7 linked regions of the Homo sapiens genome follow. The protein of the gene in region 1 interacts with the protein of each later gene in a pairwise test. Each region holds a gene or a part of one and is shown in the gene's direction. Other genes may lie near its edges.

Evidence for each region.
Region 2: the proteins of PRPF8 (region 1) and BCAS2 interact in binary tests that used the Homo sapiens proteins (3 or more experiments, as listed by UniProt).
Region 3: the proteins of PRPF8 (region 1) and SERPINB2 interact in a two-hybrid assay, tested with the Homo sapiens proteins (one study listed by BioGRID).
Region 4: the proteins of PRPF8 (region 1) and SLC22A2 interact in a protein complementation assay, tested with the Homo sapiens proteins (one large-scale study listed by BioGRID).
Region 5: the proteins of PRPF8 (region 1) and ABCA1 interact in a two-hybrid assay, tested with the Homo sapiens proteins (one study listed by BioGRID).
Region 6: the proteins of PRPF8 (region 1) and HNRNPH2 interact in a two-hybrid assay, tested with the Homo sapiens proteins (one large-scale study listed by BioGRID and IntAct).
Region 7: the proteins of PRPF8 (region 1) and DSCAM interact in a two-hybrid assay, tested with the Homo sapiens proteins (one large-scale study listed by BioGRID and IntAct).

The regions. Positions count from the first base shown.
Region 1 is NC_000017.11:1,674,227-1,678,661, reverse strand, and holds part of PRPF8 (pre-mRNA-processing-splicing factor 8), read left to right. Parts: intron 1-9; coding exon 10-144; intron 145-967; coding exon 968-1,097; intron 1,098-1,489; coding exon 1,490-1,686; intron 1,687-1,950; coding exon 1,951-2,157; intron 2,158-2,291; coding exon 2,292-2,455; intron 2,456-2,607; coding exon 2,608-2,734; intron 2,735-2,849; coding exon 2,850-3,042; intron 3,043-3,322; coding exon 3,323-3,510; intron 3,511-3,981; coding exon 3,982-4,220; intron 4,221-4,435. UniProt on the Homo sapiens protein: Plays a role in pre-mRNA splicing as core component of precatalytic, catalytic and postcatalytic spliceosomal complexes, both of the predominant U2-type spliceosome and the minor U12-type spliceosome.
Region 2 is NC_000001.11:114,566,592-114,569,806, reverse strand, and holds the end of BCAS2 (pre-mRNA-splicing factor SPF27), read left to right. Parts: intron 1-1,550; coding exon 1,551-1,677; 3' UTR 1,678-2,250; downstream 2,251-3,215. UniProt on the Homo sapiens protein: Required for pre-mRNA splicing as component of the activated spliceosome. Component of the PRP19-CDC5L complex that forms an integral part of the spliceosome and is required for activating pre-mRNA splicing.
Region 3 is NC_000018.10:63,893,523-63,897,957, forward strand, and holds part of SERPINB2 (plasminogen activator inhibitor 2), read left to right. Parts: intron 1-930; exon of another isoform or gene 931-1,014; intron 1,015-1,741; coding exon 1,742-1,861; intron 1,862-3,568; coding exon 3,569-3,697; intron 3,698-4,204; coding exon 4,205-4,322; intron 4,323-4,435. UniProt on the Homo sapiens protein: Inhibits urokinase-type plasminogen activator. The monocyte derived PAI-2 is distinct from the endothelial cell-derived PAI-1.
Region 4 is NC_000006.12:160,238,050-160,242,484, reverse strand, and holds part of SLC22A2 (solute carrier family 22 member 2), read left to right. Parts: intron 1-82; coding exon 83-191; intron 192-898; coding exon 899-1,011; intron 1,012-4,435. UniProt on the Homo sapiens protein: Electrogenic voltage-dependent transporter that mediates the transport of a variety of organic cations such as endogenous bioactive amines, cationic drugs and xenobiotics. Functions as a Na(+)-independent, bidirectional uniporter.
Region 5 is NC_000009.12:104,812,826-104,817,260, reverse strand, and holds part of ABCA1 (phospholipid-transporting ATPase ABCA1), read left to right. Parts: intron 1-915; coding exon 916-1,118; intron 1,119-2,785; coding exon 2,786-2,834; intron 2,835-3,029; coding exon 3,030-3,143; intron 3,144-4,435. UniProt on the Homo sapiens protein: Catalyzes the translocation of specific phospholipids from the cytoplasmic to the extracellular/lumenal leaflet of membrane coupled to the hydrolysis of ATP.
Region 6 is NC_000023.11:101,410,580-101,414,926, forward strand, and holds the end of HNRNPH2 (heterogeneous nuclear ribonucleoprotein H2), read left to right. Parts: intron 1-1,356; coding exon of another isoform or gene 1,357-1,409; coding exon 1,410-2,759; 3' UTR 2,760-3,554; downstream 3,555-4,347. Other genes in the region: RPL36A-HNRNPH2 protein, read left to right, coding at 1,357-1,413. UniProt on the Homo sapiens protein: This protein is a component of the heterogeneous nuclear ribonucleoprotein (hnRNP) complexes which provide the substrate for the processing events that pre-mRNAs undergo before becoming functional, translatable mRNAs in the cytoplasm. Binds poly(RG).
Region 7 is NC_000021.9:40,336,380-40,340,814, reverse strand, and holds part of DSCAM (cell adhesion molecule DSCAM isoform CHD2-42 precursor), read left to right. Parts: intron 1-1,399; coding exon 1,400-1,696; intron 1,697-2,438; coding exon 2,439-2,714; intron 2,715-4,435. UniProt on the Homo sapiens protein: Cell adhesion molecule that plays a role in neuronal self-avoidance. Promotes repulsion between specific neuronal processes of either the same cell or the same subtype of cells.

The DNA.
Region 1 (4,435 bases):
GTATTGCAGCTGGCAGATGGATTGCAGTATATATTTGCCCATGTTGGGCAGTTGACGGGCATGTATCGATACAAATACAAGCTGATGCGACAGATTCGCATGTGCAAGGACCTGAAGCATCTCATCTATTATCGTTTCAACACGGTGAGACCTTGACTTTACTGACTTTCTTTTTTTTGAGACAGAGTCTTACTCTTGTCTCTTGGGCTGGTGTGCAATGGCACGATCTTGGCTCACTGCAACCTCCGCCTCCTGAGTTCAAGCAATTCTCCTGCCTCAGCCTCCCGAGTAGCTGGGATTACAGGTGCCCGCCACCACGCCTGGCAATTTTTTTTTTGTTTTGTTTTGAAACTGAGTCTTTCTCTGTTGCCCCAGCTGGAGTACAATGGCACGATCTTGGCTCACCACAGCCTCCGCCTCCCGGGTTGAAGTGATTCTCCTGCTTCAGCCTCCCAAGTAGCTGGGACTACAGGCGCGCACCACCATGCCTGGCTAGTTTTTGAAATTTTAGTAGAGATGGGGTTTCACTGTATTGGCCAGGCTGGTCTTGAACTCCTGACCTCAGGTGATCCACACTCCTCGGCCTCCCAAAGTACTGGGATTACCAGCGTGAGTCACCGTGCCCAGCCTCACTGGACTTAACTTTCTCAGATCTTTTTTCATGTATACATTTAGACAGGGCTCTTTCCAGGGACCTATTTGGAGAGCAGCTATGACTGTGTCCTTACTGCTCCTTTAAATTCACATGGGCGATCTTAGTTCCTGGTTTTTGCCTTAAGGTTTCTCATTTACCCTTTTGTTTTAGATGTTGAGGTCCCAGAGTTTTTTTTTCTTTTTACCCCTCTACTGCCATACCTACATTCCTCTGTATGTATATTATACATATATGCCCCACCTCTGCCCAGGTTTCTATTGTTGTTTAAATGCATTGCTAACTTGTATTCTTAACTTCTGCTTGGGATCGTAGGGCCCTGTAGGGAAGGGTCCTGGCTGTGGCTTCTGGGCTGCCGGTTGGCGAGTCTGGCTCTTTTTCATGCGTGGCATTACCCCTTTATTAGAGCGATGGCTTGGCAACCTCCTGGCCCGGCAGTTTGAAGGTGAGTGGTTTTCTCTGTGTCCAACTTCTCCTGTTATTGCTTCAAAAGTACCTGCCCCTGTTTGAGTCTGTTCCCTGCTCTTGTATGAGCACTCTTCCTACTGGATTGCCTTTAGGTCCAGTTCTGAAATGAGTCTGACCTAGTATTCTATTTCTTGGGCTTCCTTCTGGGGCCTTGAGAGGCAGTCATGCATTTGCAGGAGTGGAAATTCCTCAGAAGCATAGTTGTGAATGTTTAAGGTAGCTCGTCTTTTTGCATATGCTGGGCACAGGGACGCTTTGTTAATACCTAATTTTATTAATAACCATAATGAGTGAGGAGCATGAAGGTAGAGACCCTTATTGAAAGCAAGGAATCTTCCTTGTAATCCCCTTGGGACACTCTACTTCCAGGTCGACACTCAAAGGGGGTGGCAAAGACAGTAACAAAGCAGCGAGTGGAGTCACATTTTGACCTTGAGCTGCGGGCAGCTGTGATGCATGATATTCTGGACATGATGCCTGAGGGGATCAAGCAGAACAAGGCCCGGACAATCCTGCAGCACCTCAGTGAAGCCTGGCGCTGCTGGAAAGCCAACATTCCCTGGAAGGTGGGTGTCTCTTTATTTCCTTGGAGGCGTAAACATCCGTCTTTAGGGTAGGATTACCACTTCGGGAATCATTAGGGGGCTATCTGGCTCCAATCTCTTTTCTTTTCCCTTTTAGACAGGGAAAAGAAGCACCATGTTGCTTAGGCTGGCCTCAAGCTCCTGAGCTCAAGCGATCCTCCTTAGCCTCCTGAGTAGCCGGGACTACAGATGTGTGCCACAGTGCCTGGCTGGATCCTGGCTTGATTGTGCTTTTTGGACTTTTAGGTCCCTGGGCTGCCGACGCCCATAGAGAATATGATCCTTCGATACGTGAAGGCCAAGGCTGACTGGTGGACCAACACTGCCCACTACAACCGAGAACGGATCCGCCGAGGGGCCACTGTGGACAAGACTGTTTGTAAAAAGAATCTGGGCCGCCTCACCCGGCTCTATCTGAAGGCAGAACAGGAGCGGCAGCACAACTACCTGAAGGTTGGGCAGAGTAGGCTGGGCTGGGTGTGAGTGGTGGGGGAGTGGGCAAGAGGGAGGACTGTAGAGTTGTGACTGAACCTTGTTCTGGCAGGATCGGGCTGTAGCGGGAGGCTAATTTCATGTCCACCTTACAGGACGGGCCTTACATCACAGCGGAGGAAGCAGTGGCAGTATATACCACCACAGTGCATTGGTTGGAAAGCCGCAGGTTTTCACCCATCCCATTCCCCCCACTCTCCTATAAGCATGACACCAAGTTGCTCATCTTGGCATTGGAGCGGCTCAAGGAAGCTTATAGGTGAGTAGTAGGGTAGATAGGTTCCTGCTGGGAAGGTGACAGCAGGGAATGGCGTCATCCTCAGAGTCCAAAGAAAGAAGGTGTAGCCCCAGTCTTTCCTGGTTTTACTTCCTCCTAGTTTTCCCATTCACCCTTCCCATTGCTTTTGTCAGTGTGAAGTCTCGGTTGAACCAGTCTCAGAGGGAGGAGCTAGGTCTGATCGAGCAGGCCTACGATAACCCCCACGAGGCGCTGTCCCGCATCAAGCGTCACCTCCTCACACAGAGAGCCTTCAAAGAGGTGAGTGAGGCCTCCCAAGTTTTCTTTTTGGTTCTACCAAAGGTAGCAGTTGCCTTTGGTTCTACCAAAGGTAGCAGTTGGTGGATTGGTGTGAACCAGCCTCCTTGTCCCACAGGTGGGCATTGAGTTCATGGATCTGTATAGCCACCTCGTTCCAGTATATGATGTTGAGCCCCTGGAGAAGATAACTGATGCTTACCTGGACCAGTACCTGTGGTATGAAGCCGACAAGCGCCGCCTGTTCCCACCCTGGATTAAGCCTGCAGACACAGAACCACCTCCGCTGCTTGTTTACAAGTGGTGTCAAGGTAGAACTTTCATGAGATCGCCCTGTGAGGAACGGGGCAGGAATTTAGTTCTACGTCAAAAATCTCATCTGGGTAGCATGATTGGTTTACTCTCTTGATGCGTGGTAGTAAAGGGAAGTAGTGTTCGTGTTAAACTGAGGAAAAGCCCATAGTCAAAGCAATCCAAATGAATACGTGGAATCATAGTGGGATTGGTTATGGAAGGTAATGATAGTTCCTGTGGGGCTAGTCTTGCAAGAGGATTTCTAACCTGCTGGAGACCTGCCTTGCTACTCCTCAGGCATCAATAACCTGCAGGACGTGTGGGAGACGAGTGAAGGCGAGTGCAATGTCATGCTGGAATCCCGCTTTGAGAAGATGTATGAGAAGATCGACTTGACTCTGCTCAACAGGCTGCTGCGCCTCATCGTGGACCACAACATAGCCGACTACATGACAGCCAAGAACAACGTCGTCATCAACTATAAGGTGCGTCTCAGGCGCAGTAGCATGGAATTGTGTGTGGAGTGCTTGTCTGGCCCACTGACTCAGAATTTGCTGAGGAGGAGGCTGGGTGCGGTGGCTCATGCCTGTAATCCCAGCACTTTGGGAGGCTGAGGCGGGCAGATCACGAGGTCAGGAGTTCGAGACCAGTCTGGCCAACATGGTGAAACCCCGTCTCTACTTAAAAAAATACAAAAATTAGTTGGGTGTGGTGGTGGGCGCCTGTAATCCCAGCTACTTGGGAGGCTGAGGCAGGAGAATCACTTGAACCCGGGAAGTGGAGGTTGCAGTGAGCTGAGATTGCGCCAGTGCACTCTCAGCCTGGGTGACTGAGCACAACTCCGCCTCGGGAGTGGAAAAAAGTAGAATTTGCTGAGGGGAGAACAAAAGAGGTTAACTCTGGAGAATCCTGGGGCATGGCTCACATTCTTAAGAATTGTAGTTCTTTCTTTCTAGGACATGAACCATACGAATTCATATGGGATCATCAGAGGCCTGCAGTTTGCCTCATTCATCGTGCAGTATTATGGCCTGGTGATGGATTTGCTTGTATTGGGATTGCACCGGGCCAGTGAGATGGCTGGGCCCCCTCAGATGCCAAATGACTTTCTCAGTTTCCAGGACATAGCCACTGAGGCTGCCCACCCCATCCGTCTCTTCTGCAGATACATTGATCGCATCCATATTTTTTTCAGGTGAGGGCTTTCCTGGATTCCTAGCCTTGCAGGGTACTGAGGCATGTGCTTTGCCTCTGAAATCAGCTATTGTACCTGAGTTGACTTAACTGCTGTTGGGGCTTTAAAATGGAATGAAGCGGCCGGGTGCGGTAGCTCACGCCTGTAATCCCAGCACTTTGGGAGGCCGAGGCAGGCGGATCACGAGGTCAGGAGATCGAGACCATCCTGGCTAA
Region 2 (3,215 bases), on another chromosome or scaffold:
AACCATTGGCGAAGGATCCTTTGCTAAATTGAACCATTGCTAAAGGATTCTGGTCTTAGAATACCCTGTTTTTAGTCTAGTATTTTTGGCCTTGAATAGAACTCTACCTTTATTCTCCTTTTAAACGGAAAAAAAAAAAAAATAGGCACGGTGGCACATGTCTGTAGTCCCAGCTACTCTGGAGGCTGAGGCAGGAGGATTGCTTAACCTGGAAGGTTGAAGCTGCAGTGAGTCATAATCACACCACTGCACTCCAGCCTGGGCAACAGAGCAAGACCTAGTCTTTAAAAAAAAAAAAAGGAAAAAAATTATTTTATAAAATCTTGTAGGGAGGGAGATTTCATACTTGGTAATTTTTTTGTACCTCAGGTTTATGCATTTTTAAAAATGTTCTTTTACATACACACATGTATACCTTTATACAATATAATCTTGAATATTTGTGTCATTTCTCTCTTCCTTTTTGCTTGGCCATTCCCTTTCTCCCTTCATTACTCAAGTCATTCTTGTTCCACCGTCTCCATGTACGTCTTACCAGTCTCGTTGGTACCCTTTCACGCTTTTTCCTCAATTTAATAAACTATTGCCTCTTTCCTTTTTGTTGATTAAATACTATCTTCATCACTCTTTCCTCTTTCTTCTGGTTTGCAAGTTCTCTCATCTGTTTCTAATTTGCTTTTTTATTAAACTTTTATTTTTAGATAATTATAGATTCACATGCAATTGTAAGAAATAATACAGAGAGCCAGGTGTGGTGACTCACATTGTAATCCTAGTGCCTTGGTAGGCCAAGGTAGGAGGATTGCTTGAAGCCAGGAGTTCAAGCCAGCCTGGGCAACATAACGAGACCCTGTCTCTACAAAAAAATGCTTTTAAATGAGCCAGGCATGATGGCATGCACCTGTAGTCTAAGCTCTTCAGGAGGCTGAGGTTGGAGGATTGCTTGAGCTCAGGAGTTCCAGGCTAGTGAGCTGTGATCACACCACTGCATTTCAGCCTAGGCAACAGAGCAAGACCCTGTCTCTGGAAAAAAAAAAAAAAAAAAAAAAAAGAATACAGAGAGATTCCATGTACCCTTTACCTACTTTTCCACAATTGTGCCTTGATTTTTTTTTAATGGAAAGTTGAAAGTGAAGGTTAGGCCAGGCATGGTAGCTCATGCCTGTAATCCCAGCACATTAGGAGACCGAGGTGGGTGGATCACCTGGGGTCAGGAGTTTGAGACCAGCCTGGCCAACGTGGTGAAACCCCATCTCTACTAAAAATACAAAAAAGTAGCCAGCTGTGGTGGCGTGTGCCTGTAATCCAGCTACTCGGGAGGCTGAGTCAGGAGAATCCCTTGAACCCGGGAGGCGGAGGTTGCAGTGAGCTGAGGTTGCGCCATTGTTCTCCAGCCTGGGCAACAAGAGCGAGACTCCGTCTCAAAAAAAAAAAAAAAGTGAAGGTTAGTGTTATAGCTCTGGGTGAACATGTGTATACATTTAAAATAAAATCTTCTAAGAGAAGTTTTACATTGAGTAATTTTTTTCTTTTCTTCCCCCCCATTCTAGTTGGGTATCCCTGGTCAGTAAGAATTATGAGATTGAACGGACTATTGTTCAGCTAGAAAATGAAATCTATCAAATTAAGCAGCAACATGGAGAGGCAAACAAAGAAAACATCCGGCAAGACTTCTGAAAAGACAATTTAGCAGGTAGAAGAAAAGTTGGGCTTTCACAAAAGGCATCTGAACTTTTAATGAACTTTGAAGGACAACAGCATCTTCCCAAAACCATTGATGTTTAAGTGTTTAGAAATCATAGAAGGTGTAGGCTGCTGTGGTAATTCTATTTGTATATCTCAACAGAATTAAAATGTCTAGCTTGGTGGTATTTTTATAGCCATAAAAGAAAATCTTTAGGCTTTCAAAATAAGGATGACTTTAGAATAATATTGTGTCATAGAATTAATTTTCAGCCATGTGGACCATATTTTGTATCCAAGGATCCTTATTTAAAGCTTTCAACATGTACAGGAAGTTGGAAATTTTTGGTTTATGACTTTGTCTAATAAAGAGATAGTTCTAAACACATTCTTGATCACCAAACAACTTCAGAAAGACAGTGACTGTACAGTTATCATTATCATCATCATCGTCATCATCATAGGTAACAGTTATATCAAGCTTAATATGTGCTGAACATTGTTCTGAACACTTTAGGTAGATGAACTAGATGTATGTGAATAAAAATTATTTGGTCCTCACAAAAACCTCAGGAGGCGGTTACTGTTTTTCTCATATGTGGACATGTAACAGACACCAGTTAAATAACATAACTTGCCAGAGTTTTATAGCTGAAAGTGTCAGCTTTTTTATAGAAAGTTGTCAGTCAGGTTTTGAACCCAATAGTCCAGCTCCAGAGTTAATGTTCTTACTTCTCTACTTGTAAGGAATTAAATTGTGTAAAAGATTCCTGCCCAATTCAGAAAAAATATTTGCAACATATCAAAAGGTAGTGTTGCTAGGTGTGGTGGCTCACGTCTGTAATCCCAGTGCTTTGAGAGGCTGAGGCAGGAGGATCACTTGTGTCCAGGAGTTCAAGGCCACCATAAGCTATGATTGTGACACTGCACGCCAGCCTGGGTGACAGAGCAAGACCCTGTCTCAAACGAAGCAAGGTAGTCTTAATGTATAAAGACTGACTGAAAATTATTGCAAGGTCAGTGGCTCACACCTGTAATCCCAGCACTTTGGGAAGCTGAGGTGGGCAGATCACGAGGTCGAGAGATCGAGACCATCCTGGCCAACATGGTGAAACGTCATCTCTACTGAAAATACAAAAATTAGCTGGGCATGGTGGCATGCGCCTGTAGTCCCAGCTACTCGGGAGGCTGAGGCAGGAGAATCGCTTACACCCAGGAGGCAGAGGTTGCAGTGAGCCGAGATTGCACCACTGCACTCCAGCCTGGCGACAGAGTTAGACTCTGTCTCAAAAAAAAAAAATTACTGAGAGGTGTTCATCTCAATAACTGATAAATATAAATTTGAAAAATCTAAAAATTATTTTTCAATTTTGAAAAAATAAAAGGATGTTCATTATAATACAAAATAAACCTAGAACTTTTTGATCTGTGATATTGATAAATGGTTAGTACTTTCGAAAGTACCTTAATACAATTGAGAGCCCCATTTCTTTTTGTTTGTTTGTTTTGTTTTGTTTTGCACTTGTTGCCCA
Region 3 (4,435 bases), on another chromosome or scaffold:
TCCCAGATAAAAAGAAAAAGACATTTATTGGCTGGAGAAAGCAGCACAGACTTTGGGGACAGACGTATCTGTGTTTGAGTCATGGCTTTGTTCCTTACTACATGTGTGTGAGGACATTGAAACCATTTGCATCTCAGTTTTCTCATCTACAAAATGGGAATAAAAATGTGTAGCATGCAAGAAAGTTGTGAAGATTAGAGGTACTATGTAAGGCACTTAGTAGCAGTTGCTATAATAACAACCAATACTTATTAGTGCCTTAGCCAGGCATCTTTCTAAGAACTTCTTATAAATTTACTCACATAAGACAAAATATTATGAGGTAGGTACGATGATTACCGTACTCATTTTACAGATGAGGGAATCAGGGCAAGAAGAGGCCACACAGTTGAGAATTGCTGTAGCTGTTAGAAGTGGTACATTTGTAGTGAAAGAAAAGAATACATAAAAGATATAAGCTCCTGGATGGCATAGGTCTGTGGGAATTAGGATATAAGCTCTTTTCCTTACAGTGAGGCAACAGACCCATCCAGGCCAAACTGCCTCACTATTTTCTCTGTGGCCTTTGTGTGGACTAGGGGCAGCTCACAGTCCCACTTTTGCAGGGACATCTCCCTGAGTGACTTTAACACTGATTCAGGAAGGCTTTAGTGCTAGCCCAAAGAACCCTGATTTAAGGGTCAATTTCCTTGGAAGAGAGGAAAACCAGCCAAGCTGTCGTAGGAAATCTTCTTCTTTTACGTGAGGGTGGAGTTGCACCACTTCTTTTCAGAGAGTACTAGGCAGGACTTACGATGTATGACTCAAAGAGCAGAAAAAGACCTCACAAACCCTAACACCTCTCCTTCTAGCCCAGAAATTCACCAACTTGCTGGACAAGGCTGCCTTAATTAACTTCATTAGCAGAACCCCAACCATCAAGCCACTTACCAGATCAGCTTCTCCTCAGGGACCCCATAGGGAGGTGCTGCAGGACCAAGGGTTCCCAAGGAGGTGGGATGGGGTGGGTGGCTGGGAGGCAGGGCCAGCTTGCAGGTATTAAGACTGGCAGACCAAGGCGGGCAGGCAGCAGTGTTGTGGGAAGGGGATCTGAGGAAGCTTCAGAGGGGACAGTCCTTGCTGCCAGCTTCCCCGTGTCAGCCAAAACTGCCTACTTACTATACGAAGAGATTCACAGTGTCATCAGACCAACTTGTCCCTCACATGGACATAAATTTCTCTGTGTATGAATATGGTATGTGTAAATATTTTAGGTGAACCCTGTTAATATTGCATGACCTGTTTTATGCCTTAGCTGACTCTGGCTTGTAGTTTTTGACAGATTGAAAGTATTTTGTGTATAAGGCCACTGAAAAGAGAGAGACACACAAGGTTCTGAGTTAATCTTGTGACTTTCTTTAAAATACTGGCATTTTTTTTTCAAGACCATTTATTGGTTGGATATAATTTAGATAATTTGGGGAAGAGGTTTTAAATCATTTCATAATAACAATTTGTTTTCCAAAATGGCCAGGATATAAATTAATCTAAAACACCTCATGCTGTTTTCTATAAGGGAAATTTAGGTTGGCTGATACTTTTATATTACACAGAAAGAGTATTGAGTATCTATGGTTGTTCCCCATGTATAAGGGAAGGGAAAAGATCTAGGACCATTTTAGAGCCACCTGATAGCCATCTGTTTTAAAAGTTCAGTAAATCCGTGGGCAAGTGTAACCGTTTTCTCTAATTCTGATTGCAGGTGCTTCAGTTTAATGAAGTGGGAGCCAATGCAGTTACCCCCATGACTCCAGAGAACTTTACCAGCTGTGGGTTCATGCAGCAGATCCAGAAGGGTAGTTATCCTGATGCGATTTTGCAGGTATCTGACTTACTGGTCCAAATTTCTTTTGTGGTTTATTTTTGCAATCTTCCTGTCTTAAAGCCACAGTGTCAGACTGGGAAGGAAGCGAATATACCCTCCCCCATTCACAGAAAGAAAACTAAGACTCAGAGTCATTAAGAAAAACATGTCCTAAGATGATACCCATAACGAGAGACGAGCCAGGACAGAATCCAGACTTCATGAGTTTTAGGCCAAGCCTATTTACTTCTAAATTCTCTCATGCCTCTCTGTCATTGGTGAGGTATGTGTAATTTATCATAAATCCACAGTAGAGACTCCTAGAATACACGTGTATGGATAAGGATTTCCAGAGGAGAGAGGGTAGGGACTGACAATTGATTGAGAAATGGCAGAAGGCTGGGCCCAATGATTGCATGAGAAATCACTGACCTTCAGGTAACTTTCCTTCTATCTATCTAATCTATCATCTATCATTGATCTCTCTCATCTATCTTACCTATCATACATCTATCAATCCTATCTATCTATATATTTTATGAATCATCTATTTATCATCTATCTTCTCTGTCATCTGTCTATCTTATCTATTTATCAATCAGCTATCTCGGGGAGTAACACCTTTCCTCAGTACTCCATTTCCTTAAATGTCAGCTATCCAGTTAAATTATAAAAACTGAGTATAGACTGCTCCTGTTGGCAACCAACTTCCACAGTCATGCTTATGAGGTAGATTATGAAGAGGTATCTCCCAAAGCTCTCTTCCTGGGCACTCTGAAGCTCCTTCTACCCATTGCCCAGGGAATTATGGGCTAGAGGAGGTGGACAGGATCCTGATCATGTGGAGATTCCGCCAGGTGTTCTGTGGTACCTGGCAGTCCATCAGGAGGGCTCTGTCCCCTGCCCTAGGACAGGCTGCTGCTGTGACCAAGCCCTGTGTCTGACATGGTGCTTACAAACTTCAGTTTGAGAACTGAAATAACCATTCACTTTTGTGGTTTTCTAAAACCCATGTTTTCCACTGCATAGTTTGCCCCATAAAATAGGTATCTAGAGAAGCTATATGAACTTTGTAAGATCATTACTAAGGCAACATTTCCTCCCTGCCAGCTTTACTGAGGTATAATGGACAAATAAAAATTGTACATGTTCAAGATGTACAGTGTGATGACTTGCTATACCTATACATTGTGAAATGATTACAGTCAAATTAATGAGCACATCCATCACTACAATTACCCACCATTTGTATGTATGTGTGTATGTATAGTGAGGACACTTAAAAAATATATTCTTCACAAATTTCAAGTAAACAGTTTTATTAACTATAACTATTAATGAACACAATCTTATTAACTATAGTCATTATACTGTACATTAGATCCCCAGAACTTATCCATCTTATAAATACAACAAAAATTCCTTAGAGACTTTGAAGTTTAGGAAACTGAGAAGGGGCCTTTCTTCTAGGCTGTTGGTCACCTGGTTAAATCCAATCCATAGACAGAGCAAAATTGGAAAGAAATTAAAATTCACCTTATTAGTTTTAATGTACCACATCCTTATCGAAATGATTTTCTCAAAGATTCCTCTAATGTACCAAAAATAAAGTATGTATTAATATAGCATTTCATGATTGTATTCAAAAACTATTACCATGGCTTAAGAACTATCTTGTTTAGTAGTTCTGTGTTATATATAAAGAATTCCTTCTTTCTTTTCAAGGCACAAGCTGCAGATAAAATCCATTCATCCTTCCGCTCTCTCAGCTCTGCAATCAATGCATCCACAGGGAATTATTTACTGGAAAGTGTCAATAAGCTGTTTGGTGAGAAGTCTGCGAGCTTCCGGGAAGTAAGTGAAACCTGTAATTGAAATGGCTGGATCCCAAACAAGTAATGAAGTCACTTTCAAAGCAGTTCTCTACAATTCAACAGTTCATAAAAGCAGAGTTGGAATTCCACACCAGCTCCCTAGGGCTGGCCTTGCGTAACAGCTGCCCTTCCTGTACCCTCTGGGGCTTCCTCCTCTTCCCATTGCAAATGTCCCAATCTCAGAGTCATAAATCAGGAAAACAAATGCAACTGTTTTCCAGAGACACTATCCCCCAAGTCAAACCTCTTTCCTTTTATTCTGTCTCTATAATGCAAGGAGTACAAGAGGGTGGATAGAGTTGGGGAGTAAGCGTGGACAAAGGGGTCTGCACTCTTTCCCCCTTCAGCACCTGCCTTCCATAGCCAACCTCCACTCCCACCCTACCCCAGGTCTCCTAATTTCAATGGGAAGACCATAATTCACCATTATGCCATGGCTTGTTTGGTATGTATTTTATGTAGCCTTTGTCATTTTCTTGCTTTAAAGGAATATATTCGACTCTGTCAGAAATATTACTCCTCAGAACCCCAGGCAGTAGACTTCCTAGAATGTGCAGAAGAAGCTAGAAAAAAGATTAATTCCTGGGTCAAGACTCAAACCAAAGGTAAATCCAAGAAAATATTTTATTTACTTCTTTCCAGTTAGAAAACTCTGATCTATCTTTTTCCATCCATGAACTTAGTTAGCCCTCACCCCTTTACAATTTGTCCAACTGCA
Region 4 (4,435 bases), on another chromosome or scaffold:
TCCTTACAGTCCCACTCTGGAGCACTGTCTGAAGATGAGGAATCATCTGTGTACGGATAAGTACTGTTCTTTTCCCTCTTAGATCTACAATGGCTAAAAATTATTATCTCATGCTTGGGAAGAATGGGGATCACAATGGCCTATGAGATAGTCTGCCTGGTCAATGCTGAGCTGTACCCCACATTCATTAGGTGAGTGCATTTTCCTTAGAATGACGAGGGTGGGTGAGACATTTGTTCATTGGCTGGAACCACCACAAGTGCAGACAAAGGATATCTTACCTTCAAAACACAGTGTAAGGGAAGGTGAGAACACGTAAAGGTCCAGCCAGGCCCAGCAGTTCACCTCTCACACTTACAGGCTGGGGTAAAATACAGAGGCCATGGTGAGAACAGAAAATTGAATTGCAAGACAGGGATTACCCAATGGCTACAGGGGAGATTGTTGTGGAACAGCACAAACAGGTCCATAGAAACAGCTTAGGGAAGCCAGGTGATGGAAGTAAAAAGAAACAATTGCTCCTCCCATCATTAAAAAAAAATTTAAGGTTTATACAAAACAAGAATGACAGAATATGAATGGAATTATGTATATATATATATATATAAAATATTGTGCATTGAAAATAACGTGAATGTTTTTTTAAACTCTTGAACATTTTATTTTTGGTGTTTTTTTTTTATTTCAATAGGTTTCTGGGAAACAGGTGGTATATGGTTGTATGAATAAGTTCTTCAGTGGTGATTTCTGAGATTTTGGTGCACCCGTCACCTGAGCAGTGTACACTATAGCTCTTGAACATTTTAATTATTTGAGGAAGTGTTTATTCAGGGGTGGATGGGAGATAACTACTGCACTGTGATAAGTTAACAAGTTAAATCAGTTTCCTGCATTCTAGGAATCTTGGCGTCCACATCTGTTCCTCAATGTGTGACATTGGTGGCATCATCACGCCATTCCTGGTCTACCGGCTCACTAACATCTGGCTTGAGCTCCCGCTGATGGTTTTCGGTAAGAAATCTTCACAGATGTCTTTAAGTGAAAACTTATTTTTCTAGAGACCTTCACTTCTCTTCTACTTCATTCAAAACAGGTGTCATGCCTATTAGTAACTACTAATTACTACTCATAGTAGTAATGATGTGTCTGTGGCTTGCGTTCTTCCTGGATGTGCCTAGTAATTAGTAATATTATTAGTATTAGTAATACTAATCAATAATACTAGTTCAGTATTCATAATATTATCATCACTACTAATACTCAAGTATGGGACTCCTGCCATAGAGGCAGAATGTTGAAGAGAAGAATGAGAAGGAAGAAAGTTTCCCAGCAGCAGGCCCCTAACTCTCTCTCTGCTGATTTCCACCCTTCCTGAGGTCTCTGTCAAAGAGTTAACTCCTCCATGCCCAGAGGTGGTAAAACACAAGCCCTTTTACTTCTTACTTCAAAGAAGGGGGTTAAAATTTTGCAAAAGGCAATTTCAAAACCCAGAGGAAATAAAGACCCACATTAAGAAAATGCATCAGCATAATGGAGCACCTGTGTTGATGCACCTGGAGCAATTAGATTTCAGGAGCGTCACATAGCACTTCCCTTCTGCTACTGCCAGCAGGAACACACCAGCACTGAGCCTTCTCTGGTTAACTGGAACACCTCAATGCACCCATTTCAGGCTCCTTTGACACCCATTCTGAGCTGCTTTTAATTGAATATGTGATGCTTTTTCCCATGGGCATATAGCACTCAATTTAGGGGAAGAGAAGAAGAAGAGATTTCACTCTCAGATGTACATGAGGGTGTAAAGGGAAAGGAAATTTAAAAATCTCAGGACCCCCAGAATCCTTATGCAAAAGGGAAGACTAAGCCTGGAGGTTGAGTCATGCAACACCCTCTTCCAGATGAATAGCTGTTACAAGCATTATACATCATGCCTCAGTTATCTACAAAGGACCACCCCTGCAGGTCATTCATAAGTAAATTCTTTGCTGGCCTCCTGTAGACAAGAATTTTAGGTCTACAATCTAAGCTTAGCTTCTAAAACTAAAGTCTGCTGATTCCACACTGATAATGTTGATTGCAAGCTTATTTCCCAATGTACAGAATAAAGACAAGATCAGTCATTCCTCCACCTACTCAGAGAGGCCTGCATAATTGATTCTTTTCTTTACTCCCATTTTCTCTTTAAACATTCACCTTATCATATGTAAAATGTAAATTTAACTGGGCACTAGTTAAAGTCTCACAAGGATGGAAACATTCCTCTACGGCCTACCTGCCCCTCTCCCTACCTGCCTCCCTACTTTAAGGAAATGTATAAATACCAACCTCCTGAAAGCCTCTTTGTAAAAACAGCCACAGATGTGTCTGTGGCTCATTGCTTTTCAGGGACATGCCCTAAAGCTGACTTAATAAACCTCGACTGACTGGGACATTTTCCTCAGTCACTCATTTCCGTTATCAGGGGAAGCTCCCACCACTTCACTCCTAAGGCTGCCCAATGCCCCACACAGCTACCCTGCTCATTCCTTTTCTTCCCCTTCTTCTCACGGAATTTGTGAGGGGGAAAATTTTCCACCACTCTAGATCTGCCAGCAAAAGTTCCAAACCACTGATGGAACTTACCTGCAAAACAGATGCAATGAATTCCTCCATGATCCAGTTTAATAGCAATAAGATGGCCAAAGTTGACAGAGCACAAGCTCTTTATCCTGAGATAACTTGGCCACAGAGTAGCTGGTGCTACTCCTGAGACATATGTGACCCCTATTTCTTTCTCCCCCAACACTGGCTAAGGAAACTGTCCTCAGAACCCTCTTTTCATCATGAGGAGGTACCCATCAAACCCTCTGTCCTCCTTCCTGCCATGGAGGAAGTTAGAGACCACTCAATCTTGGCCACTCCCTTAGGTGGACAGTGGGTGACTAATGGGTCAGCAGGACATTTCTGGATAGCAGATGGTTACTTCGTTACTGGAAAGAGGTCCTGACCCAGACCCCAAGAGGGGGTTCTTGGATCTTGCACAAGAAAGAATTCGAGGTCAATCCATAGAGTAAAAGGAAAGCAAGTTTATTAAGAAAGTAAAGGAATAAAGAATGGCTACTCCATAGGCAGAACAGCAGCATGGGCTGCTCAGTTGAGTAACCTATAGTTACTTCTGGATTATATGCTAAACAAGGAGTGGATTATTCGTGAGTTTTCCAGGAAAGGGATGGGCAGTTCCTGGAACTGAGGGTTCCTCCCCTTTTCAGACTATATAGGGTGACTTCCGGACATCACCATGGCATCTGGCATCTGTAAACTGTCATGGTGCTGGTGGGAGTGTCTTTTAACATGCTAATGCATTATAATTAGTGTATAATGAGTAGTGAGGATGACCAGAGGTCACTTCCATCGCCATCTTGGTTTTGGTGGGTTTGGGCCAGCTTCTTTACCACTTCCTGTTTTATCACCAAGGTCTTTGTGACCCTGTGTCTTTTGCTGACCTCCTATCATCCTGTGACTAAGAATGCCTAACCTCCTGGGAATGCAGCCCAGTAGGTCTCAGCCCCATTTTACCCAGCCCCTGTCCAAGACAGAGTCACTCTGGTTCAAACAACTTTGACAACTTCATGTTTCTCTAAGTACTATTTAACAAATAGTACTTTATTGACCCTTGTTCCTGCCTGACACCTTCCTGCAGGAAAGATAAAGGATTATAACTACATTTCAATATTTAAAGTAAACTCAAAGACAATTCTAATTTTATTCTTGAAAGTAATTTCATATTCTTCCCTCACTAACCTTTAGTATGAGTGGCTAGTGGAAAGAAAACCTAATAGTTTTTCATTTTAACTTCTTTCTCTTTCTTTTCCACACAATAATGGTGTGCTAATTGTGGTCTTGAAATAGCCATAAAACGATAATCAAAGAAGACTGAAAGTCAACACACTGGAAAATCCTGGCTGAAAGAGCACTGGAAAAATCAACAAGGATTATTCTGGTTAACTAGGCCTGTCTTTGCAAATATAAAATGCCAAACGAATGGTAATTTTATTAATCAGTTGTATTCATCATGATTCACTCACTTCAGAGATTCAGATGCCAGCTGAATGTGTTTCTTGTTTGCATTACTTACAATACAATAACCAAGTGAATCTTGGGAGGCTTGGAGACATTTTGAGAGGTTAATTATTTAATAGGCACTTCCACTGTATATACCATGTGCCAGGCACTATTCTAAGCCTTTGACAATATTAATTCATTTCAGCCTCATAACAAGCCTGTCTCTGTTACCAGAAAGGGGTCCCAATCCAGACCCCAAGAGAGGGTTCTTGGATCTCACACAAGAAGGAATTCAGGGCGAGTTCACAGAGTGATGTGAAAGCAAGTTTATTAAGAAAGTAAACAAATAAAGAATGGCTGCTCCATAGGCAGGGCAGCCCTGAGGGCTGCTTGT
Region 5 (4,435 bases), on another chromosome or scaffold:
AGGAGAGGTGCAGAGGCTGGTGGCGCTGACTCAAGGTTTGCTGCTGGGCTGGGGCTGGGTGGCTGCGGGTGTGGGAGCAGCTTGGTGGCGGGTTGGCCTAATGCTTGCTGGGGTGCCTGGGGCTCGGTTTGGGAGCTAGCAGGGCAGTGTCCCAGAGAGCTGAGATGATTGGGGTTTGGGGAATCCCTTAGGGGAGTGGACACTGAATACCAGGGATGAGGAGCTGAGGGCCAAGCCAGGAGGGTGGGATTTGAGCTTAGTACATAAGAAGAGTGAGAGCCCAGGAGATGAGGAACAGCCTTCCAGATTTTTCTTGGGTAGCGTGTGTAGGAGGCCAGTGTCACCAGTAGCATATGTGGAACAGAAGTCTTGACCCTTGCTATCTCTGCCTAGTCCTAATGGCTGGCTTTTCCCAGGAAGGCTTCTGCTTCCATGGACTGTTAGATTAACCCTTTATTTAGGTAAATGAGGGAACCTACTTTATAAGCATAGGAAAGGGTGAAGAATCTTTTAAGATTCCTTTACTCAAGTTTTCTTTTGAAGAATCCCAGAGCTTAGGCAATAGACACCAGACTTTGAGCCTCAGTTATCCATTCACCCATCCACCCACCCACCCACCCATCCTTCCATCCTCCCATCCTCCCATTCACCCATCCACCCATCCAGCTGTCCACCCATTCTACACTGAGTACCTATAATGTGCCTGGCTTTGGTGATACAAAGGTGAATAAGACATAGTCCTTTCCTTTGCCCCCAACCCTCAGACCAGAGATGAACATGTGGAATGACCTAAACACCTGGAACAGGTGTGGTGTATGAGCGGCAGGCCTCTGATGAGAGGGTGGGGGATGGCCAGCCCTCACTCCGAAGCCCCTCTGAGTTGATTGAGCCATCTTTGCATTCTGGTCCCTGCAGATGTCTCTGCTATCTCCAACCTCATCAGGAAGCATGTGTCTGAAGCCCGGCTGGTGGAAGACATAGGGCATGAGCTGACCTATGTGCTGCCATATGAAGCTGCTAAGGAGGGAGCCTTTGTGGAACTCTTTCATGAGATTGATGACCGGCTCTCAGACCTGGGCATTTCTAGTTATGGCATCTCAGAGACGACCCTGGAAGAAGTAAGTTAAGTGGCTGACTGTCGGAATATATAGCAAGGCCAAATGTCCTAAGGCCAGACCAGTAGCCTGCATTGGGAGCAGGATTATCATGGAGTTAGTCATTGAGTTTTTAGGTCATCGACATCTGATTAATGTTGGCCCCAGTGAGCCATTTAAGATGGTAGTGGGAGATAGCAGGAAAGAAGTGTTTTCCTCTGTACCACAGTACATGCCTGAGATTTGTGTGTTGAAACCAGTGGTACCTAACACATTTACATCCCAACCTTAAACTCCTATGCACTTATTTACCCTTTAATGAGCCTCTTTACTTAAGTACAGTGTGAGGAACAGCGGCATCAGGATCACTTGGGAACTTGTTAGAAATTCAGCAACTTGGGCCCAGCTCAGACCTACTGAATCAGAATCAGGAGCAATTCTCTGGTGTGACTGTGTCACAGCCAGGTATCAACTGGATTCTCATACATAGGAAATGACAAACGTTTATGGATGGATAGTCTACTTGTGCCAGGTGCTGAGATTTGTTTTTTGTTTTTTGATTTTTTTTTAATCACTGTGACCTCATTTAATTCTCAAAAAAAGATGAAAAAATGAACACTCAGGAATGCTGACATGAGATTCAGAATCAGGGGTTTGGGGCTTCAAAGTCCATCCTCTCTTTATCCATGTAATGCCTCCCCTTAGAGATACAACATCACAGACCTTGAAGGCTGAAGGGGATATAAAAGCTGTCTGGCCAAGTGGTCTCCAAGCTTGACAGTGCAGCAGAATCACCTGGGGATATTATTAAAAATAAACATACTAAGGTTTGGCTTCAGGGCCTGTGAATCAGAATTTCTGGAGGTGAGGCCTTGAAGTCTGTATTTCTATTGCATACTTTGGACACAGTGGTCTATAGACTAGAGTTTGGAAATGATTGCGCTCATTCAGATTCTCTTCTGATGTTTGAATTGCTGCCATCATATTTCTAGTGCTCTATTTCCTCCTGCTCATTCTGTCTTGGATAACTTATCATAGTACTAGCCTACTCAAAGATTTAGAGCCACAGTCCTGAAAGAAGCCACTTGACTCATTCCCTGTAGGTTCAGAATAAATTTCTTCTGCGCAGTGTCTGTCATAGCTTTTTTTAAATTTTTTTTTATTTTTGATGAGACTGGAGTTTTGCTCTTATTGCCCAAGCTGGAGTGCAGTGGTGCGATTTTGGCTCACTGCAACCTCCACCTCCCAGGTTCAAGCGATTCTCCTGCCTCAGCCTCCCAAGTAGCTGAGATTACAAGCATGTGCTACCACGCCCAGCTAATTTTGTATTTTTAGTAGAGATGGGTTTTATCCATGTTGGTCAGGCTGGTCTCGAGCTCCAGACCTCAGGTGATCTGCCCGCCTCGGCCTCCCAAAGTGCTGGGATTATAGGCCTGAGCCACAGCGCTCAGCCATAACTTTAATTTGAAAATGATTGTCTAGCTTGATAGCTCTCACCACTGAGGAAATGTTCTCTGGCAAAAACGGCTTCTCTCCCAGGTAACTCTGAGAAAGTGTTATTAAGAAATGTGGCTTCTACTTTCTCTGTCTTACGGGGCTAACATGCCACTCAGTAATATAATAATCGTGGCAGTGGTGACTACTCTCGTAATGTTGGTGCTTATAATGTTCTCATCTCTCTCATTTTCCAGATATTCCTCAAGGTGGCCGAAGAGAGTGGGGTGGATGCTGAGACCTCAGGTAACTGCCTTGAGGGAGAATGGCACACTTAAGATAGTGCCTTCTGCTGGCTTTCTCAGTGCACGAGTATTGTTCCTTTCCCTTTGAATTGTTCTATTGCATTCTCATTTGTAGAGTGTAGGTTTGTTGCAGATGGGGAAGGTTTGTTTTGTTGTAAATAAAATAAAGTATGGGATTCTTTCCTTGTGCCTTCAGATGGTACCTTGCCAGCAAGACGAAACAGGCGGGCCTTCGGGGACAAGCAGAGCTGTCTTCGCCCGTTCACTGAAGATGATGCTGCTGATCCAAATGATTCTGACATAGACCCAGGTCTGTTAGGGCAAGATCAAACAGTGTCCTACTGTTTGAATGTGAAATTCTCTCTCATGCTCTCACCTGTTTTCTTTGGATGGCCTTTAGCCAAGGTGATAGATCCCTACAGAGTCCAAAGAGAAGTGAGGAAATGGTAAAAGCCACTTGTTCTTTGCAGCATCGTGCATGTGATCAAACCTGAAAGAGCCTATCCATATCACTTCCTTTAAAGACATAAAGATGGTGCCTCAATCCTCTGAACCCATGTATTTATTATCTTTTCTGCGGGGTCCTAGTTTCTTGTATACATTAGGTGTTTAATTGTTGAACAAATATTCATTCGAGTAGATGAGTGATTTTGAAAGAGTCAGAAAGGGGAATTTGCTGTTAGAGTTAATTGTACCCTAAGACTTAGATATTTGAGGCTGGGCATGGTGGCTCATGCCAGTAATCCCAGCGCTTTGAGAGGCTGAGGTGGGTAGATCACCTGAGGTCAGGAGTTTGAGACCAGTCTGACCAACAAGGTGAAACCCCGTCTCTACTAAATACAAAAAATTAGCCGAGTGTGGTGGCACATGCCTGTCATCCCAGCTACTTGGGAGGCTGAGGCAGGAGAATCGCTTGAACCCAGGAGGCAGAGGTTGCAGTCAGCCACGGTTGCGCCATTGCACTCCAGACTGGGCAACAAGAGTGAAAACTCCATCTCAAAAAAGAAAAAAAAAGAATTAGATATTTTGGATGAGTGTGTCTTTGTGTGTTTAACTGAGATGGAGAGGAGAGCTAAGACATCAAACAAATATTGTTAAGATGTAAAAGCACATCAGTTAGGTATCATTAGTTTAGGACAAGGATTTCTAGAAAATTTTTAGGAACAGAAAACTTTCCAGTTCTCTCACCCCTGCTCAAAGAGTGTATGGCTCTTACATTATATATAACTGCCTGACTTCATACAGTATCAGTACTTAGATCATTTGAAATGTGTCCACGTTTTACCAAAATATAATAGGGTGAGAAGCTGAGATGCTAATTGCCATTGTGTATTCTCAAATATGTCAAGCTACGTACATGGCCTGTTTCATAGAGTAGTCTATAAGAAATTGATGACTTGATTCATCCGAATGGCTGGCTGTAACACCTGGTTACGCATGAACACCTCTTTTCAGTTGTCTCAAGACACCTTTCTTTTCTGTACTTATCAGACAAGGACTGAAAGGCAGAGACTGCTACTGTTAGACATTTTGAGTCAAGCTTTTCCTTGGACATAGCTTTGTCATGAAAGCCCTTTACTTCTGAGAAACTTCTAGCTTCAG
Region 6 (4,347 bases), on another chromosome or scaffold:
GTGTAGATACATCTTTTCTCCATTTTACTCCTGTTGCCTTAGGCGATTCCTTTAACATATATTTATGAGACAAGTTCTAACTAATCTCCCTAGTTCCACGTCGACCCCCTTCTGTTTGAGTGCCACGCTGTTGCCAGGGTGATCTGTCTGAAAGAGTTTTGGTGAAGTCACCCTACATACTCCCCGGTTTAAAAGTCTTAAAAGGCGCTTAGTGTTTGTATATCAAAGTCTTTGGGATCTGATCTATGCCTTGCCAGTCTTTTCACTTGCTTTTCCCTCTCCTATTTGTGCTTCATCATAATTAAGAAAAAAAAATGTTTATGGATCCCTGGGCAGATTAGTCTGTTTCATTTAACCATTTGGCCTCCAACCAATAGAACTGATCAACTAGTCCCTCTTTGATACTATGCTTACACTCCACTCAGAGGGTCATGGCAAGTATAATGTATATTTGCATTTACATCTTTAATAATGACATTCGGTGCTCCTGTAGGACCATAAGCCCATTCTGGGCTTATTGATTCTTGTATGCCAGAGCCGAATATTGGACATGGCAACTAAAAAATGTTTCTAAAATGAATGTGTGAATTCCCAATAATGTCTTTTTTTCATTTATCTCTGGAGCCCAAATATTTCCCTGATTTTATTGATTTGCATACATTTTTATATAATGAAGATATTATATAAAGAACTTACATAACCTGTGTTTTGTTTGTGTTTTAATTGTTGTTTAATCTTTTGATCTAGTGAAGTTTTTTATGTTTATATATTCAGATATAGCCATCTTTTATTTGTTGACATCTCCCACTGATTTGTTGCTGTTAATTTTTTTTTTTTTTTTTTTTTTTTTTTTGAGACGGAGTTTTGCTCTGGTCGCTGAGGCTGGAGTGCAGTGGCGTGATCTTGGCTCACCTCCACCTCCTGGGTACATAAAAGCGATTTTCCTGCCTCAGCCTCCCGAGTAGCTGGGATTACAGGCACCTGCCACCACGCCCAGCCAATTTTTTGTATTTTTAGTAGAGACGGGGTTTCACCATGTTGACCAGGCTGGTCTCGAACTGCTGACCTCAGGTGATACACCCACCTCAGCCTCCCAAAGTGCTGGGATTACAGGCGTGAGCCACCGCACCCGGCCGATTGCTGTTAATTTTTAATGGTATCTAACACGTAATAGGCATTGAATAAATAACTGCTAAAAAATGAATGAGTTAAAAATTTGGTGAACTCTCTGTTTATACAGACGTCTTACAGAAAAGCTGTCAGCATAATTGAATTTTCTATTAATAGTTTGCTTTTTTCTCTTACTATATCACGAGCATTTTTCCATGACAGTAGTCTTCTTTTTTTTTTTTTCAGCTACACCAAAATTGCATTGAGCCAAACTTGCCACCAAGAGCCCAACAATCACCATGATGCTGAGCACGGAAGGCAGGGAGGGGTTCGTGGTGAAGGTCAGGGGCCTACCCTGGTCCTGCTCAGCCGATGAAGTGATGCGCTTCTTCTCTGATTGCAAGATCCAAAATGGCACATCAGGTATTCGTTTCATCTACACCAGAGAAGGCAGACCAAGTGGTGAAGCATTTGTTGAACTTGAATCTGAAGAGGAAGTGAAATTGGCTTTGAAGAAGGACAGAGAAACCATGGGACACAGATACGTTGAAGTATTCAAGTCTAACAGTGTTGAAATGGATTGGGTGTTGAAGCATACAGGTCCGAATAGCCCTGATACTGCCAACGATGGCTTCGTCCGGCTTAGAGGACTCCCATTTGGCTGTAGCAAGGAAGAGATTGTTCAGTTCTTTTCAGGGTTGGAAATTGTGCCAAATGGGATGACACTGCCAGTGGACTTTCAGGGGCGAAGCACAGGGGAAGCCTTTGTGCAGTTTGCTTCACAGGAGATAGCTGAGAAGGCCTTAAAGAAACACAAGGAAAGAATAGGGCACAGGTACATTGAGATCTTCAAGAGTAGCCGAGCTGAAGTTCGAACCCACTATGATCCCCCTCGAAAGCTCATGGCTATGCAGCGGCCAGGTCCCTATGATAGGCCGGGGGCTGGCAGAGGGTATAATAGCATTGGCAGAGGAGCTGGGTTTGAAAGGATGAGGCGTGGTGCCTATGGTGGAGGGTATGGAGGCTATGATGACTATGGTGGCTATAATGATGGATATGGCTTTGGGTCTGATAGATTTGGAAGAGACCTCAATTACTGTTTTTCAGGAATGTCTGATCATAGATACGGAGATGGTGGGTCCAGTTTCCAGAGCACCACAGGGCACTGTGTACACATGAGGGGGTTACCTTACAGAGCCACTGAGAATGATATTTATAATTTCTTCTCACCTCTTAATCCCATGAGAGTACATATTGAAATTGGACCCGATGGCAGAGTTACCGGTGAGGCAGATGTTGAATTTGCTACTCATGAAGATGCTGTGGCAGCTATGGCAAAAGACAAAGCTAATATGCAACACAGATATGTGGAGCTCTTCTTAAATTCTACTGCAGGAACAAGTGGGGGTGCTTACGATCACAGCTATGTAGAACTTTTTTTGAATTCTACAGCAGGGGCAAGTGGTGGCGCTTATGGTAGCCAAATGATGGGAGGGATGGGCTTATCCAACCAGTCTAGTTATGGAGGTCCTGCTAGCCAGCAGCTGAGTGGTGGTTATGGAGGTGGTTATGGTGGTCAGAGCAGTATGAGTGGATATGACCAAGTTCTGCAGGAAAACTCCAGTGACTATCAGTCAAACCTTGCTTAGGTAGAGAAGGAGCACTAAATAGCTACTCCAGATATAAAAGCTGTACATTTGTGGGAGTTGAATAGAATGGGAGGGATGTTTAGTATATCCAGTATGATTGGTAAATGGGAAATATAATTGATTCTGATCACTCTTGGTCAGCTTCTCTTTCTTTATCTTTCTTTCTCCTTTTTTAAGAAAACGAGTTAAGTTTAACAGTTTTGCATTACAGGCTTGTGATTCATGCTTACTGTAAAGTGGAAGTTGAGATTATTTTAAAACTTCAAGCTCAGTAATTTTGAACACTGAAACATTCATCTAGGACATAATAACAAAGTTCAGTATTGACCATAACTGTTAAAACAATTTTTAGCTTTCCTCAAGTTAGTTATGTTGTAGGAGTGTACCTAAGCAGTAAGCGTATTTAGGTTAATGCAGTTTCACTTATGTTAAATGTTGCTCTTATACCACAAATACATTGAAAACTTCGGATGCATGTTGAGAAACATGCCTTTCTGTAAAACTCAAATATAGGAGCTGTGTCTACGATTCAAAGTGAAAACATTTGGCATGTTTGTTAATTCTAGCTTTTTGGTTTAATATCCTGTAAGGCACGTGAGTGTACACTTTTTTTTTTTTTAAGGATACGGGACAATTTTAAGATGTAATACCAATACTTTAGAAGTTTGGTCGTGTCGTTTGTATGAAAATCTGAGGCTTTGGTTTAAATCTTTCCTTGTATTGTGATTTCCATTTAGATGTATTGTACTAAGTGAAACTTGTTAAATAAATCTTCCTTTTAAAAACTGGAAAAAATCTTGAACTGATTGATTTTTATTATGTTCTGTCATATGGGCACACTGATTGACTTTACAATTCCCTCAAAGTTAAGATTTTTAATTTTAAAATTATAAATGATATTTAGCATCTTTATATGTTCATTGTTGCATATATCATTAATTATTTCTAAGATATATCCCTAGAAATGGGATTGCTGAGTCAAAGATATACTCATTTTTAAGGCTTCTGATTTGTGTTACCAGAAAGATTCTGGTACTTTATCTTTCTACTTGGAGTGTGTGTTTTATTTTCCCCCTTATACCCTCCTTATTGATGCACATTATTCTTTTTGAACTTTGCCAGTTTTTTAGTTGAGAAATGATATCTCATTGCTATTTTAATTTGTATTTTTTTGATTAATATTAAAGTTGTACATTCTTTTTTAAAAAAAACTTACCATGTCTACAGGACTATTGAGCTACTTTTGGAGACTGTACTTACCAAGATAGTATTCTCTAAAATCCAAAGAAGTGAAAGCAAATAAATAATCCTTTTTATTTCACCACAAACTAGAAGGCACGTTTGTATGTTTAAAAAGAAGTAGGCTTACAATTATGTGTTAAAAACAAAACATAAAAAAGAAGCAGGTTTATGTTATGGAAATAAATTGTCTCCTCCATGAATTCATTAGTAGATTCTCTATAAACACTCTCAGGTGTATTTTAGGGCATCTAAAGCTTATCTTAAACCAGCGGTTCTCAAACATTCATGTGCATCAGAATCATCTGCAGGGGTTGTTTAAACATTCATTTCTAGGCCCCATCCCTAG
Region 7 (4,435 bases), on another chromosome or scaffold:
AAGCTATCCTAATTTTGCTTGCCTCCTTTCTTTTTGTTTATAATACTTTCCAATTTTCAACAAAAAAGATATTCAACAATGGAGATTCATTACTTTTATAATAAAATCAAAAACTAAAAAAAATCTACTCATTCTTATCTTTCATTATGGGACAACCCTTTAATTGAACACAAAAATTCTTTTAAAAAACAAAAGATGTCCCCTCCAGCAAGGTCTCTTACCAGACTCAGAAATCCTGTGGCATGTGATTGCAATTATGTCAAAATGACCCACTTATGCCTAGAAAAAATGTGTCACAGTGTTGATTTGTATGCCTGAGGCTGGCTGACCTATTGGTAACTTTTCTTCTGATTTTCATACATTTCCTTTAATATGCATGTATTTCTTTTTATAAATGGAAAAACATATATAAAAGAAACATGCATTTGTAACTATTACTATATAAGAGAAAAAACCATATGGATGATAGAAAAATAATGGAATATGAAAATTTGATCTATGTAAACATACTGAAAATTTCTATGGAGACTTCTCTAAGATTAAGATCCTAGTTTGCCTGCGATAGTTCTGGGTCATGCCTGTTCTCTTGGCATAATTATTAGTCCTTTCTGTTTCAGCCTCAAAAGTGTCCCAGGTTGGATGTTAAATTATATGGCCAGCCTACTTAAGATACTTTTAGAGAGATTTAAAACATGCTTAAGTACCCTACTTAAGATATCTTTAGAGGTTTTTAATACACGGCATTTAATACAAACTTTATTTAGCTTCTACCCATTCTCAGAGACTTCATGGAAGTTTGCATGCAATTACTATTTGTAATTAAAGTTATTAAAAGAGGATTTCTTATGAGAAAATGATGAAGATGAGGTCATCAATCTCTCAGTAGTTTCCTTTATTCCTGTAAAGAATTCCCTAGTGAGAAAACCCCAAATAACTTGAGGAAGTATTAGGTTGGTGCAAAAGTAATTGCTGTTTTTGCCATTACTTTTTGCAATCACTTTTGCACCAACCTAACAGATAAAGTGACTGTTTGTGGGAGTGAGCGGGTGTGGATTTTCCGTCTGTTTATAACTTTGTGTGAGGAAACACCAGTTTTAAATTAAGGACTTCTTAGGAGCTGTCATTGTTTAACCTGAACATCTGAGTTGTATTACCATTCCTCTTAAGTCAATCAGGAAATATAGAAACAGTTGATGAAAGCTTGCTAACACTGTGCTTACCTGTTTTGAAAACAGTGAACTCTTGTTCTGATTAACGTTTTGCTTTATCAGGAAAACCAGACCTTTTTGGTAATGTTTAACAACTACGACATTTACCCCCTAGACATGAAAGACATATACTTGGAAGTTGTTTAATTATTTGTATGTGCCACTTTCTTCCATAATTTGTTTTCCTGCAGATGGAACTCCCAAAATTATTTCTGCCTTTAGTGAAAAGGTGGTGAGTCCAGCAGAGCCGGTTTCCCTTATGTGCAACGTGAAGGGAACACCTTTGCCCACGATCACGTGGACCCTGGACGATGACCCGATTCTCAAGGGTGGCAGTCACCGCATCAGCCAGATGATCACGTCGGAGGGGAACGTGGTCAGCTACCTGAACATCTCCAGCTCCCAGGTCCGGGACGGGGGAGTCTACCGCTGCACTGCCAACAACTCGGCGGGAGTCGTCCTGTACCAGGCTCGAATAAACGTAAGAGGTGCTTGTCAAATCAGCTCCTCAAAAAAACACACATAACTCATTATAGTGGAGAAGAAGATTTCTGCATGCACCGAGCTGGGTCTTGGAATGCCAGAGCGGATTAACTGTTGCTTCCCATTTCCTACCCTCTCCTTCCTACTCAGGAATGGCACTGACTGGGTTAATGTTGGAAATGGCATTTTGGTTTCTGTAGTCAGCTTGTTCTTTTTTACTCTAGATCTGTTCACCTGATGTTTCCTTTCCTGGTTTATGCTCTGCATGCCCTTTCCCTTCTCCTTCTCTTCGGTTCTTCCACATTCATGGTAAACCTTCATGTACATGGTATTAAACTTACATTCATGCTGCAACGTGATGTAACCTCCATTGTCGTCCTAGATTTTACAGAGAGAGTTAAACAATTGATCAATTGCTGCCAGTGTGTTCACCAAAAGTGCGTGATTGTCCAGTATAGACTAGTTACTTTCTATTAATTAAATTGCCTTTTATCTTGTAATTTTTAATTCAAAACATTTTCATAGAAGTAGCAGATAAAGTGTTTCACAGTTATACATTTGAATTTAAGAAAAGGAAAGAAAAACCTTTGTTGTAGAAAATGCCACATGCAAAAATATTTGTTTAACTGAAAAAGATGTGCTTACATGAATATAATCTACATTTTTAACTCAAGGAAAAGTGTACCCATTTCCCTACATGAGATGTACCCTTAAATTATTTTCAAGAGTTTCTTTGTGTCTCTCCAGGGCCTGCAAGCATTCGACCAATGAAAAACATCACAGCAATAGCAGGACGGGACACATACATTCACTGTCGTGTGATTGGCTATCCGTATTACTCCATTAAATGGTACAAGAACTCTAACCTGCTTCCTTTCAACCACCGCCAAGTGGCATTTGAGAACAATGGAACTCTTAAACTTTCAGATGTGCAAAAGGAAGTGGACGAGGGGGAGTACACGTGCAACGTGTTGGTTCAACCACAACTCTCCACCAGCCAGAGCGTCCACGTGACCGTGAAAGGTAAGCCCTGTTCTCCTGGTTCCCACACAACTCATTCCATAGCCCGACTACTTCCCAGACCAATGATTTGAAGTCGGGTAATCCAAGATCTGCTTATTTAGAGCAGGATAATTGTACAGGCTGAAGAATGACAGGGAACATGAGATGTCCTCTTTACTACTGACTGAATCTTCACAGGAACTTTAGTTGATCTGATTTTCTCTCCAGGTGGAATTTTGGCTTGGTTTTCCAGAGGGCATGTGTTGTTAACAATACAACAGAAAAAAAAGGAGCACATCATTAGCTTCATTATCTAGTCATCTCTCAGATAATTTTTAAATAAATAACCTTCTTTTCCTAAAACCTCCTAAAAGCAAGGTCTCTTAGAACTTCACTGGAAGGGATTTTCTGTATTGGATGAGGATTTCAAACAAACGTCTTATCTTCTGTAGATGAGCAGGTCAAAGCAACAACATAGAAATTATATGTTTAAAGGATGCCACAGAACGTTTTCCTCATTAAATTATTCTTTGCATCATGACATGGACTGTCATGGAATCTACCTGTCAGGATGATCTTTAGAGATCCTGCAATTTGAATTGACTACAATCTCCTTACCAGAAAAAAACAATAAGGTGATCAGACTCATCCAAGGATACGCAGACTTTTAGTGGCAGAGCCTCAGAAAGACTCATTTCTTCTATTCTACAAGTCAGTTTCCTGAGCTGAATATGAAATAAAATTGTTTTAATTATGTAAGGAATCTACCTGAGGTGGGTCCTAGGAATAGAACTAATATGTTATAAAACTATTTCCGAAACCTGTGGGTGTTGCTTCTAGCCACATTGAGCTGCCTGTCTGAGGTGTCCAAGTTCTCTCTCCAGGAACCAATAAGTGGCTTTTAGTTGCCCTTGTTACAAAGTTGCATAGGTTTCCTGTGGTCTTCCCCAAGCTTCTTTTCCCACCAACCCTGTGAGTTTTACTTTTGTGAGAACGCATACAGACACACACACATGGAAATAATAATATGTGTATACTATTATTACGGGGCATATATATTGCATTACATTATATATTATAGAATATGTATTGTGCATTGTATATTAGATATGCCTGCACATAATTATAAATCGGTTTTTAATAACCATATGTCTTGAGAATTTCCTCAAATCACTAGATATTCTTGGTAAACCAGGCTGCATAAAGGTTCATTTGGTGGTTGTGTTTATTTATTTAATCCTCATTTACAGAACATCTGCTTCATGCCAGGCACTACTCTAGACACTGAGGAATACAACAATGAAAAAGGTCTGCAAGGTCCTTTCCTTCATTGACTCTCTTCTCAGTCAGGAGAGACAAACAATAAACAAATAAAACAAGTGAATAAACCAGAAAACACCTAATGGTACTCCATACTATGCAGAGAATTAAAACATGGCAGTATCTTAATGGTTCATTGCAATAGTCAGATGCCATATCAACACATTTTCTGTACTCTGTCATCTTAAAATTCATTGGTCTATCATACCCTTGGAAGGAATGTTTTACCCACACATGATTTTGTAACATAAAAAGTTGATCATTTGGAAATGATTGGTTCACTGTGTTACACAGATCTTCCAAATGTTGATACAATTTGTTATACAATATCAAAATATCACAACTACTAACATTACCATGATCTCATCAGAAAGTCTTCAAGTAAACTGTCAAGTTCATGCTGATGGATGCAAGTTTTCTAA